2 separate regions of the Homo sapiens genome follow, and region 2 is linked to region 1. The links come from fine-mapping of genetic effects on gene expression. Tissue or cell type: whole blood. Region 1 holds a variant in brackets; the other region holds the start of a gene. All regions are shown on one strand. Distances are from middle to middle.

Region 1 (5,385 bases):
TCTAGAGCAATGTCAATTGAGAAGAATGCATTGGCCAAGTCCACCACATAGTGGTACTGTCCCAATTCCATCGTCAAGTGGTCCATCAAATCCGTGATAGATGGCACAGCTGCCAAGCAGTGTAAAATATCCACCCCCAGAATATATTCAGGTATGGGAGAGACGTACACAGTATAAACAGGGAGCCAAGTGGCCAATACCAAGGTGCAAAGGTACAGGTTTCACTTTCACTGACTAGCCTCCATAGCCATTTATGTATGCAGCTTTACCCGGAAACTTATCCGGGCTCCCATAGACAAGACTACAATCTGTGCCAATGTCTACCAGCACCAGCACCTGCTATACATTGGTGGGGGACCAGTGGATTGCTAATTCCACATGTGGCCTCTGGTCATCTGGTGTCCCCCCAAGCCGGGTATCTCAGCCAGCTCCCTAATCAAACACAAAAGGCTCTATACCTCTGCCTGTCTGTAAGTAGTCCTTGAGCCAGAGCATCTATCTGGGTGGGCATTTCCGGAATTGCTGCTTTGGGGTCAATTGCCTCCACGAAGTTACCAGCACTTCCCAGGTCGGTAGGGGCTCCCCCAGATGGTGCCAACACTGTTTGCCTAACTCCCACAAATCACTGGGGGTATAGGCACTATATGAAGCATGCTCCACCATGGTAGGGGATTCCTGGGTCTGCTTTTTGGGCCCAAGTGGCTATTCATGCTCTATTTTCTGGTGGACCATAGGGTTAGCCCGCAGTAGGGGTTCTTCCCCCTCAGTATCAGACCAAGCGGGAATGTCCAGCTGGGAGGGTGGGCTCAAGCTGTCACTTATGGCAGTTCCCACTTCTTATTCCAAACTGTGTATCTGGCCCTCCAGGCGCTTGGCTTGCATCTGAAGGTCCCTTACCTGTGCTGCATCCTGCAGGGAGTGGGCATGCACTGACCATAGTGCAGTCAAAAATGCCCATCTGACTCTGCTGGCAAAGGCATGCTCCTTCTCGGTGCTGTGTGCTTCCAGGTGTTTCAGTACCTTCTCTGTGCTCACAGGGGACCCGTCCACTGCTGCCCATGTTTCTACTGGAGCCCATCCTAGCAGCACAGCCACATAGCCAACCCAGGATCACTGGGGGCTGAGGACACACTCACCTCGGAATCCTGCTGACTACACCAATTGTCAGGTTCCAGCCTGAGCTGGGGTCTGAGGGGAGTTGATGGATGGGTGGCGGGTAGTTGGAAAAACACTCGGGGCACTGTAGGCAGTTGGGATATGGCTTTATTCTCTCTCTCTATCAGCCTTTGTCTCAGCCACCCCCATACCTGTAGCTGTGCCATAGCCCTTCTCAGCGCTGGCTTTGCAGCTCCTGCCACCCACATGCCTGTAGCTGTGCTCCCCAGTGCACTTGCCACTTCCTGGCTCCCCTCCTGGCCACCTGCAAGGTAGCCCAGCTCTCTCTTACAGAGTTAGCAGTGCGGTTATATTACAGAAAATGGTGGCTCAACGCCAGGTGATGAGCCCACCCATAACATGGTTACATAACTGTGATTATATACTGCACGGGATTGTGTGCCTGTGCTCCAGTCCCACTGTGTCATGCAGCACCAAATGTTTACCTCAGCCTACCCTTGACTCCAGTGCAGCCACTTCCCTTACAGTTGCCACCTATACTTGTGAAGGACTAGCTGTAAGTTGCGATTCCCATGGTGCCCCTCCTTGTGTTCCATTAATTTGCTAGGGCAGCTCCTCACTGAACTCAAGGAAACATTTTCTTGCATTTGCTTGTTTATTATAAGGGATAAAACTCAGGACCAGCCAAATGGAAAAGATGTATAGGGGCAAGATATGGCAGGGTGGGAGGCACGGAGCTTCCATGCCGTCTCTGGGCTTGCCACCTTCTCAGCACTGGATGTACTCAACCTGGAAGCTCATCAGATTTGTTGTTCAAGTGTTTTTATAGAGCTTCATCTCCAGCCCAGTCCCCTTCCCAGATGCCAGTGAGTGGGGCTGAAAGTTCCAGCCTTCTAATCATTTGGTCTTTCTGCTGACCAGCCTCATGCTGAGGTTATCTAGGGGCCTCACCCTAAGTCACTGTATTAGCATAAACTCAGGTACCATCAAAAGAGGGTTGGTATAAATGTCAAAAGACACTCCTAACATTCAGGAAATCCCAAGGGTTTTAGGAGCTCTGTGGCAGGATCTGGGGAAAAAACCAAATATATTTCATATTATACCACAGCATTATTGTTTTATTAAGAGCCCAGTTGGCCACAGGGAACTTCCTATTGTCAGTTCTTCTCTTTGGGTCACAGCATCCTTCCATCTTGCTATGCCATTCTTTTCTTTCTTCCCCCAACATTTTTCTATCTCAGGGTCCCCTCTCTTCTCTTTTTTTCCTTCTCACCTGCTTGTGAACGCTCAAGATTTTTTTCACTTCATTATGCAGAGCAATTTTGTATTCTTTTATCTCTTTTCTAACTTCACTTACCATTCACTGTGGTTTATCTCTAATGAAAAGTCATTTCAGTCATTGGGGAAGTTCTGTCACCCATATGTCTCTTTTTTCTACATATGTGCAACTCTCTTAATCCTTGTAACAGTACTATGAGGTAGATGTTACCTATGTTTTATGTACAAGAAAGTAAAGGCTAGGCTGGGTGCAGTGGCTCACACCTGTAATCCCAGCACTTTGGGAGGCCAAGGCAGTCAGATTGCCTGAGCTTAGGAGTTTGCGACCAGCATGGGCAACACGGTGAAATCCCGTCTTTACTAAAATACAAAAAATCAGCTGGGAGTGGTGGCGTGTGCCTGTAATCTCAGCTACTCAGGAGGCTGAGGCAGGAGAATTGCTTGGACCCGGGAGCCGAGCTCCTGCACTGCTCTCTAGCCTGGGCAATAGAGTGAGACTCTATCTCAAAAAAAAAAAAAAAA[AAAG/G]AAAAGAAAAGAAAGGCTCAAATGTGGGTAGCAGAACAGGGATTTGAGCCCAGTTACATTTGGGTTTAAAGCTCCATGCTCTGCCCATGCTATCACAATAGAAGTATTTATGTCAAAGACATGAAAAGAAGAAAAGTATACTGTAATTATTTATTCTTGCAAAATTAAAGTTATTTATTAAAATAGAATATTTAACATGAACTAATAAAAATGGCTTTCTACTCATGAAAGCACTGCAAGTCTGCAATAGTGTTCATTTGCTTCATTGGAATGAGAGTTTTCTGAAAACTATCCCAAATCACCTGAAATTAGATTGTTTCTTATCATTACAAGCCCTAAATTTTCTGCTCTGCTGAGATAATACAGACATACAAATACCTTACATGGACTTTGAATTATTAGTAGTATTCCTTATGCAAGATAGCTTTGTTATAGAATAGGATATCTCTAGGTAGATTTACATTCTTAGTTTTTAAGGGACTCTTTTTTGTTTTTGGTTTCCATTTACTTTATAATTGATTCTCATTCACTTGAAGATTTTTGTTTTATGATACCTAATAAGCTTAAGATGAGGACATGGGCCAGACGTGGTGGCTCATGCCTGTAATCCCAGCACTTTGGGAGGCCAAGGCGGGCAGATCACTTGAGCTCAGGAATATCAGACTGGTCTGGGCAACAAGAGGTGAAGCCCCGCCTCTACAAAAAATACAAAAATTAGCCAGGTGTGGTAGTACATGCTTGTAGTCGAGCTGCTGGGGGGTGCTGAGGTGGGAGGATTGCTTGAGCCCAGGAAGTCTAGGCTGCAGTGAGCCGTGTTCATGCCACCATATTCCAGGCTGGGTGACAAAGTGACACCCTGCCTCAAAAAAAAAAAAAAAAAAAAAAACATGAATTTTTTTTTATCACAATGCTATTATTCTATGTGTAATAAACTTATTTAATATAGAATAGTATTTGCCTTTAGTAACTTAATTATTTAGTGCCAATAATAAATCAGTGGTTTGCACAAAAACCATTTACTGTCACCTACCTTAAGGGACATAAAATATTGAGGGGAATTTTCCAGATAAAATATAATTTATTCCTCTTTTGAAGTATGCAGGGGGATATGGGTCTGTTAGGGCAGTGGTCCCCAACCTTTTTGGCACCAAGGACTGGTTTCATGGAGGACAAACTTTCCACAATGGAGGAGGTGGCGGATGCTTTCAAGATGAAACTGTTCCACCTTAGATCATCAGGCATTAGATTCTCGTAAGGAGCATACAACTAGATCCCTCGCATGCGCAGTTCACAATAGGGTTCGAGCTTCTGTGAGAATCTAATGCTGCTGCTCATATGAAAGGAGGTGGAGCTCAGGCCATAATACTTGCCCATCTGCCACTCACCTCCTGCTGTGCGGCCCAGTTCCTGACAGGCCACCAACCGGACCACACTGGTCTGTAGCCTGGGTGTTGGGGAACCCCATGTTAGGGAAAACAGGATGTGAAACGGTTCTCATCAGTAAAATGAAAGCTTTTCCTTTGACATCTCTTTCAGCTCAAACATTATTTTACTTCATATTATAGACGAACCTTAATTAGAAAATATATATAAAAAATATAAATAGAAAAAGATATCCTTTTGCATAAAGGTAGGGACACTTCTCCACTTGAAAGTGTCTAGACACAAGTGAAAGTTCTGATTACTCACTGGAAAATCCCAGATCATTTTTAAGAAGTTGGTAAGTTACAATACTGAAAGATAGTGAGTTCTGAGACTCTTGAGTCATGTAGATGCCCAGTGGGGAACTTTTAAACTTTGTTTTGTTTTCTTTGTTTCTTGGTTGGCTGGTGGATGGTAGGTTTTCAGATGGCTGGGAGCATAGGCAAAGGTAAGAGAATGAGTTCCCAGGAGGGTAGAAAAGATTTAGTGGGGTTTAAAAAAGAAGTGAAAATTATTGGTGGCGATGCTTAAAGAAAAGTTAGACTCGTTTCCTGAAAATCACTTAGATGTAAATTGAAGAAACCAGTGAATTGGCTGATTGGTATGAGAAATATGAGTAGGAAATGTGAATGAAAATTATATACCCTGCTTACCTTTCCAAGCCTGCCCAATTTCCAACATTCTTTAGAGGAGCCCTCAATTCTGTCCCAGGTTGGTAAGGTCAGGTTAACTGAGAGCCCATTGTGCGTCACACCACTCATTCTCCCTCTCCTCAGCACATGCAGCTTCATAATTTTGAGCTTTTCATGCTTCCCCTTTAGTCTGGGAAGCTTTCTTCTTCCTCTGTACATCCGTACGTCCTTCCAAGTCCTACTTTGTCCCCAAAGCCACATTTATCAAGGTTGCTCTTCAAACCCTGTGGGTTGGAATCACCTGGAGTCCAATATATAGATTTCCTGGGCTCACACTGGGGATGAAGCCCAGGAATCTTTATTTTCAGTGATCATCCCGTGTGATTCTATTACACCAAAGTTTGAAAACCTT
Region 2 (5,385 bases), 46 kb after region 1:
AGGATGCCCTCTCTCACCACTTGTATTCAACATAGTATTGGAAGTTCTGGCCAAGGCAATCAAACAAGAGAAAGAAATAAAGGGTATTCAAATAGGAAGAGAAGAAATCAAGTTATCTCTGTTTGCAGACGACTTGATTTTATATTTAGGAAGCCCCATCATCTCAGCCCCAAAACTTCTTGAACTGATAAGGAACTTCAGCAAGGTCTCAGGATACAAAATCAATGTATAAAAATCACAAGCATTCATTTACACCAACAATAGGCAAGCAGAGAGGCAAATCATGAATGAACTCCCATTCACAATCGCTACAAAGAGAATAAAATACATAGGTATACAGCTATCAAGGGATGTGAAGGACCTCTTCAAGGAGAACTACAAACCACTGCTCAAGGATATAAGAGAGAACACAAACAAATGGAAAAACATTCTATCCTCGTGGATAGGAAGAATCATGATCATGAAAATGGCCCTACTGCCCAAAGTAATCTATAGATTCAATGCTATTCCCATCAAACTACCATTGACATTCTTCACAGAATTAGAAAAACTATTTTAAATTTCATCCAGAATCAAAGAAGACCCCATATAGACAAGACAATCCTAAGCAAAAAGAACAAAGCAGGAGGCATCATGCTACCTGACTTCAAACTATACTACAAGGCTACAGTAACCAAAACAGCACAGTACTGGTACCAAAACAGACATACAGACCAATGGAGCAGAACGGAGACCTCAGAAATAACACCACATGTCTACAACAATCTAATCTTCGTCAAATCTGACAAAAAACAAGCAATGGGAAAATGATCTCCCATTCAGTAAATGGTCCTGGGAAAACTGGCTAGTTATATGCAAAAAACTGAAACTGGACCCCTTCCTTAGACCTTATACAAAAATTATCTCAAGATGGATTAAAGACTTAAATGTAAAACCCAAAACTATAAAAACCCTAGAAGAAAACCTAGGCAATACCATTCAGGGCATAGGCATGGGCAGAGACAAAAATGCCAAAAGCAATGGCAACAGAAGCCAAAATTGACAAATGGGATCTAATTAAACTAAAGAGCTTTTGCACAGCAAAAGAAACTATCATCAGAGTGAACAAGCAGCCTACAGAATGGGAGAAAATATTTGCAAACTATGCATCTGACAAAGGTCTCATATCCAGAATCCATAAGGAACTTAAACAAATTTACAGGAAAAAGACAAACTACCCCATCAAAAAGTGGGCAAAGGATATGAACAGACACTTCTCAAAAGAAGACATTTATGTAGCCAACAAACCTATGAAGAAAAGCTCACCATCACTGATCATCAGAGAAATGCAAATCAAAACCACAATGAGATACTATCTCGAGCCAGTTAGAATGGCAATTATTGAGAAGTCAGGAAACAACAGATGCTAGAGAGGATGTGGAGAAATAGGAACGCTTTTACACTGTCCGTGGGAATGTAATTAGTTCAACCATTGTGGAAGACAGTATGGAGATTCCTCAAGGATCTAGAACCAGAAATACCATTTGACCCAGCAGTCCCATTACTGGGTATATACCCAAAGGAGTATAAATCATTCTGCTATAAAGACACATACACACATATGTTTATCGCAGCACTGTTTACAATAGCAAAGACATGGAACCCACTCAAATGCCCATCAATGATAGACTGGATAAAGAAAATGTGGTACATATACACCATGGAATACTATGCAGCCATAATAAGGAACAAGATCATGTCTTTTGCATGGACATGTATGAAGCTAGAAGCCGTCATCCTCAGCAAACTACCACAGGAACAGAAAACCAGACACCACATGTTCTCACTCATAAGTGGGAGTTGAACATTGAGAACACATGGACACAAAGGGGAAACAACACACATCAGGGCCTGTTGGGAGGTTGGGGGTGAGGGGAGAGAACTTAGAGGATGGGTCAATAGGTACAGCAAAAGAAAAAAGAAAAACAAATTGACAGAAAAAATGGTAACAAAAATAAAAATAGGATAGTTTCCTTTTGGCTTACCTGAAGTGGCTATTTTAGCTATTAGTTCAAATATTTGTAAATTTTAAAATCTATCAAATTTTCTAGTGACAGCATGTGGAAGAGAAAGTTATTGAAAAGTCAGTTAGCTAATTTTTCAGACTGCAAATCACATATGTAGAATTATGGTTGTCTAGAAGTATGTTGTTTATGTTTATCATCAGTATATTTTTATAAGACAACTCATACATAATTAGAAGTAGTAACGGCTACATAAAATAGAGCATTTTCATTTAAAACAATTCTGATGGGGTAGCATGGAAGGAAGAAAATTTTGGTAGAATTTAGCTGGTTTCTAAGGAAGAGTAGAAGAGAAAACTGCCTCAGAAAAAATGAATAATGTGCCTGCAGTTTTAAACCTGAGTCTGAATACGTACATTTTGCTTAGAGCTGTGTGGAATCTGGGAAGCAAGTCTGTGTTTTCACTTTATGCACTGTTGGTTCTATTAATGAAAGCCACCAGGTGACTGGCAGTTTTCGGAGTCAAAGAAGCCTGTGTGTAGGATCTAGGGAGTCAGGTTTGAAAAAAAGATGTCAGCGACTTAAGACCCGTGTCACGTGACTCCCTCTACTTGCCAGCACTGAGGCTGTGGATCAAATTTCAACTCCAGGCAGTCCTTCCAGCCATGTGGGTTCAGCGGAAAGAGAAGCAAAACCACTCTTCCTAAAATGTTAGAAGCTGCTCTTCGCTTACCTTGGGGCCTTTGCATTGGGAGCTGTTTTTCACATCAAAGAATATGTGCTGAATGGAATTTTAGTATTTTGCTGTCGTTTTAATATTTTCGTCTGGTCTTCCTCAGTTCTTCCAGACGCTTTCTGAGAGAATGGGGGCAGGAGCTCTAGCCATCTGTGTAAGTATAGGCCTTCTTCTGTCTTCTGTGTTTACTGCCAGTTTTTAGGAGAGGGCCTTGCCTTCCTTGTTTTGATGAGATGTTTGTGTAACTTATTTTTCCTTCCCAGGAGGTGGGGAAAGATTTGTTACTTAAATTCCTATCTACTTAAATGGGTATTAGGCAGGATTTGGGATGGCATTCAGCATATTTGTGCACTTTAGTTTCCAAAAAAGGTGAAAGATGCATGCTGATTTATTCCGTTAAGTCAACTTGATTTAAAGTAGAGCACTTTCAAGCATTTTAGACTTTCTTGTCCCTGAATAGTTAAACATGAATGCTTCATTATAGCTATTAGAGAAATCTTGTGGCTAGCTTGAGGAGGAATTGAAGTAACCATTAATTTATTACTTTTGAGTATGTGTGTGACATTTTTCTGTTTTATATTTCTATTTTCGTTTAGTAATTCTGGAGTTTCTGTTTCAGCATGATTGCTGAAAGTGATGGTGGAGAAGCTCAGTTGATAAATGTTTGTGTATCCTTAAACTGTAGAAATGAATGGTTGTTATAACACAGTAGCATTAATAAATAACACTGAAATAAAATCCTTGGGAAAATGTGCATATTTCTGGAGTTTTAGAATTTTTAGAATTTATGAATTTCTAAATTATTCTGCTGGTGCTTGTACAAAACCTTTTGTAATAATCAAAAATTGTCAATTATATAATTTGCAGAATGCTGTAATTTAAATTTTGATTGTACTATATAGAAAATGCATATATCTGTATGAGAATTACACATATTTATGTTTCAAGTTGCTATTGTATTCCATAGGGACATTTTATTTTCTAGAATGTATTAAATGAGAAATATCTTCTTCCTTATTATCACCTTAACTGCTCACTTAAAAAATCACACTCAGGCCAGATCCTCTTTTTTTGTGTGTGTTTCAGAAAGAGCTGCAATTTGCTGTAGCTTCTGATGGCATTCTGAAGTGTTTAGAAATATCTGAGCAATTTTTGACACACAGACACCAAATGGTCACCAAATGGTCACCAAATGGTAGACCAGCCCTATAGATTAAGTTTTCTTAGTGAAACTGCAGGATGACCTTGTTTCCAGGCTCAAAACTTTTCAGCACCATGTATGTCACTCTGTCTTCCTTTTAACTCTGAGGCTTAGTAGCATCCAGGTATCCATGTGGTTATTCTTTTTTTATCACCCCAAAGAGTTTCCTTCAAAATCTGATTTATCTATGTGTAAAATACTGACTTTTACTTTACTGCAGAGGTGGCCCTTCTATTTTTCTAGCTTTATAAAAGAAACAATACAGAACTGAAAATGTGTAGAATGAGGCAGCAGATAGGTCATGAAGATTGGTAGTCATCTCTGATTGTCTGATTAGATCTTTACTTCTTTCCCTTGACCTGCAATATATTGATCTCTACCTTGACTGGAATGCACACTGACTCATGTATAAAACTTTATATTTTCCCTTAATTTATATCCAAAGCATGTATAAAATTTCAGTTAAAGTTGACATAAAAATCACACAGTGTAAGAGATTATTCACTCTGGTAGATGAGTAATTCTCAATCATTTCTACCCTTCTCCTTAAGGTTGGCCTTTGATTGTGCTGTCTTGGTTTTACTGTAGGAGGAAATACATTTTCAACAGTTGTACCATAGCATATCTGGAAAAAGATAGCTTTTGGAGAACAACAAAAAAAATTTTAAACATCGTGACAAAAAAGGGAGAACTAAGTCACACATTAATACATTCAATGAGCTGATACACTACTTTTTACTTTGTGTAGGAGTGAAGAGAAAGCTTTTCCTCTGCCCTTTCTGCAATTTTATTGAAACAATTGGCAATAGATTAATAGGAGAAAAAGAGTTACAAATTTATTAATATGTATATGGATATGAGAGCCCCTCAAATATGAGATTCAAAGAAGGGCCAGGTGGTTGAAGCTTAAATGCCTTCTTTTTGGGGAAGAGAGAAGTAGGGAGCTGCAGGTAATTTTAGAGAGGTAGTAAATAATTTTTAAAGTGAATGAATGGGTTCAAAGAGCATGGCCTGGGACAGCGTTTCCCTGAGCTATGGTGAGGTGGTGGAAAGGTGAGGGGTGGAATGAAGGTTGTGTTTTTATGCAGATAAAGTCTCCCAGCCAATCTCTTGGAGCTGTCCTCAGAAGAATAGATGAAAAGTCAGTGTGGATATGGTGACAGCTTTTAGTCTCTTTTCTGATGGTTAATTTTTCATGGTTATTTGATGAGATTCTCAGGAAGTAGATCTTAAGACAATTGCATTTCTTTTGGAAAGAAGCTTCCTTAATCAGATAAGGAAATTCCAGAGAGAGTCACTCTCAGTGCTTTAGGAAAGAAAAAGAGAGACTGAGGGAGGGCAGGAGAGTGGAAAGGCAGAGAGAGACCTTGGTTCTGAGGCTTATTTCTGAGACATTTTAATTAAAAATACCCAGCATGCCAAAGCACCATATTTTGGGGTATAGC

The links. PIP is the estimated chance that this variant, and not a neighbour inherited with it, causes the effect.
Region 2: FAM13A starts here. The variant in region 1 is fine-mapped to the expression of FAM13A in whole blood (INTERVAL, PIP above 0.99).

Annotation. Positions count from the first base shown.
Region 1 is chr4:89,100,761-89,106,145 of GRCh38, reverse strand. No RefSeq gene overlaps it. Among named protein-coding and RNA genes, the nearest start is that of TIGD2, 8.1 kb to the left of the region's middle. RefSeq lists enhancers at 4,375-4,524, 4,635-4,874. The variant AAAG/G (reference allele first, on the strand shown) is at 2,917.
Region 2 is chr4:89,054,446-89,059,830 of GRCh38, reverse strand. It overlaps FAM13A (family with sequence similarity 13 member A), which reads left to right and starts at 2,646. Exons shown (of 24, transcript NM_014883.4): 1 at 2,646-2,893. The coding sequence starts at 2,867. RefSeq lists an enhancer at 2,783-3,345.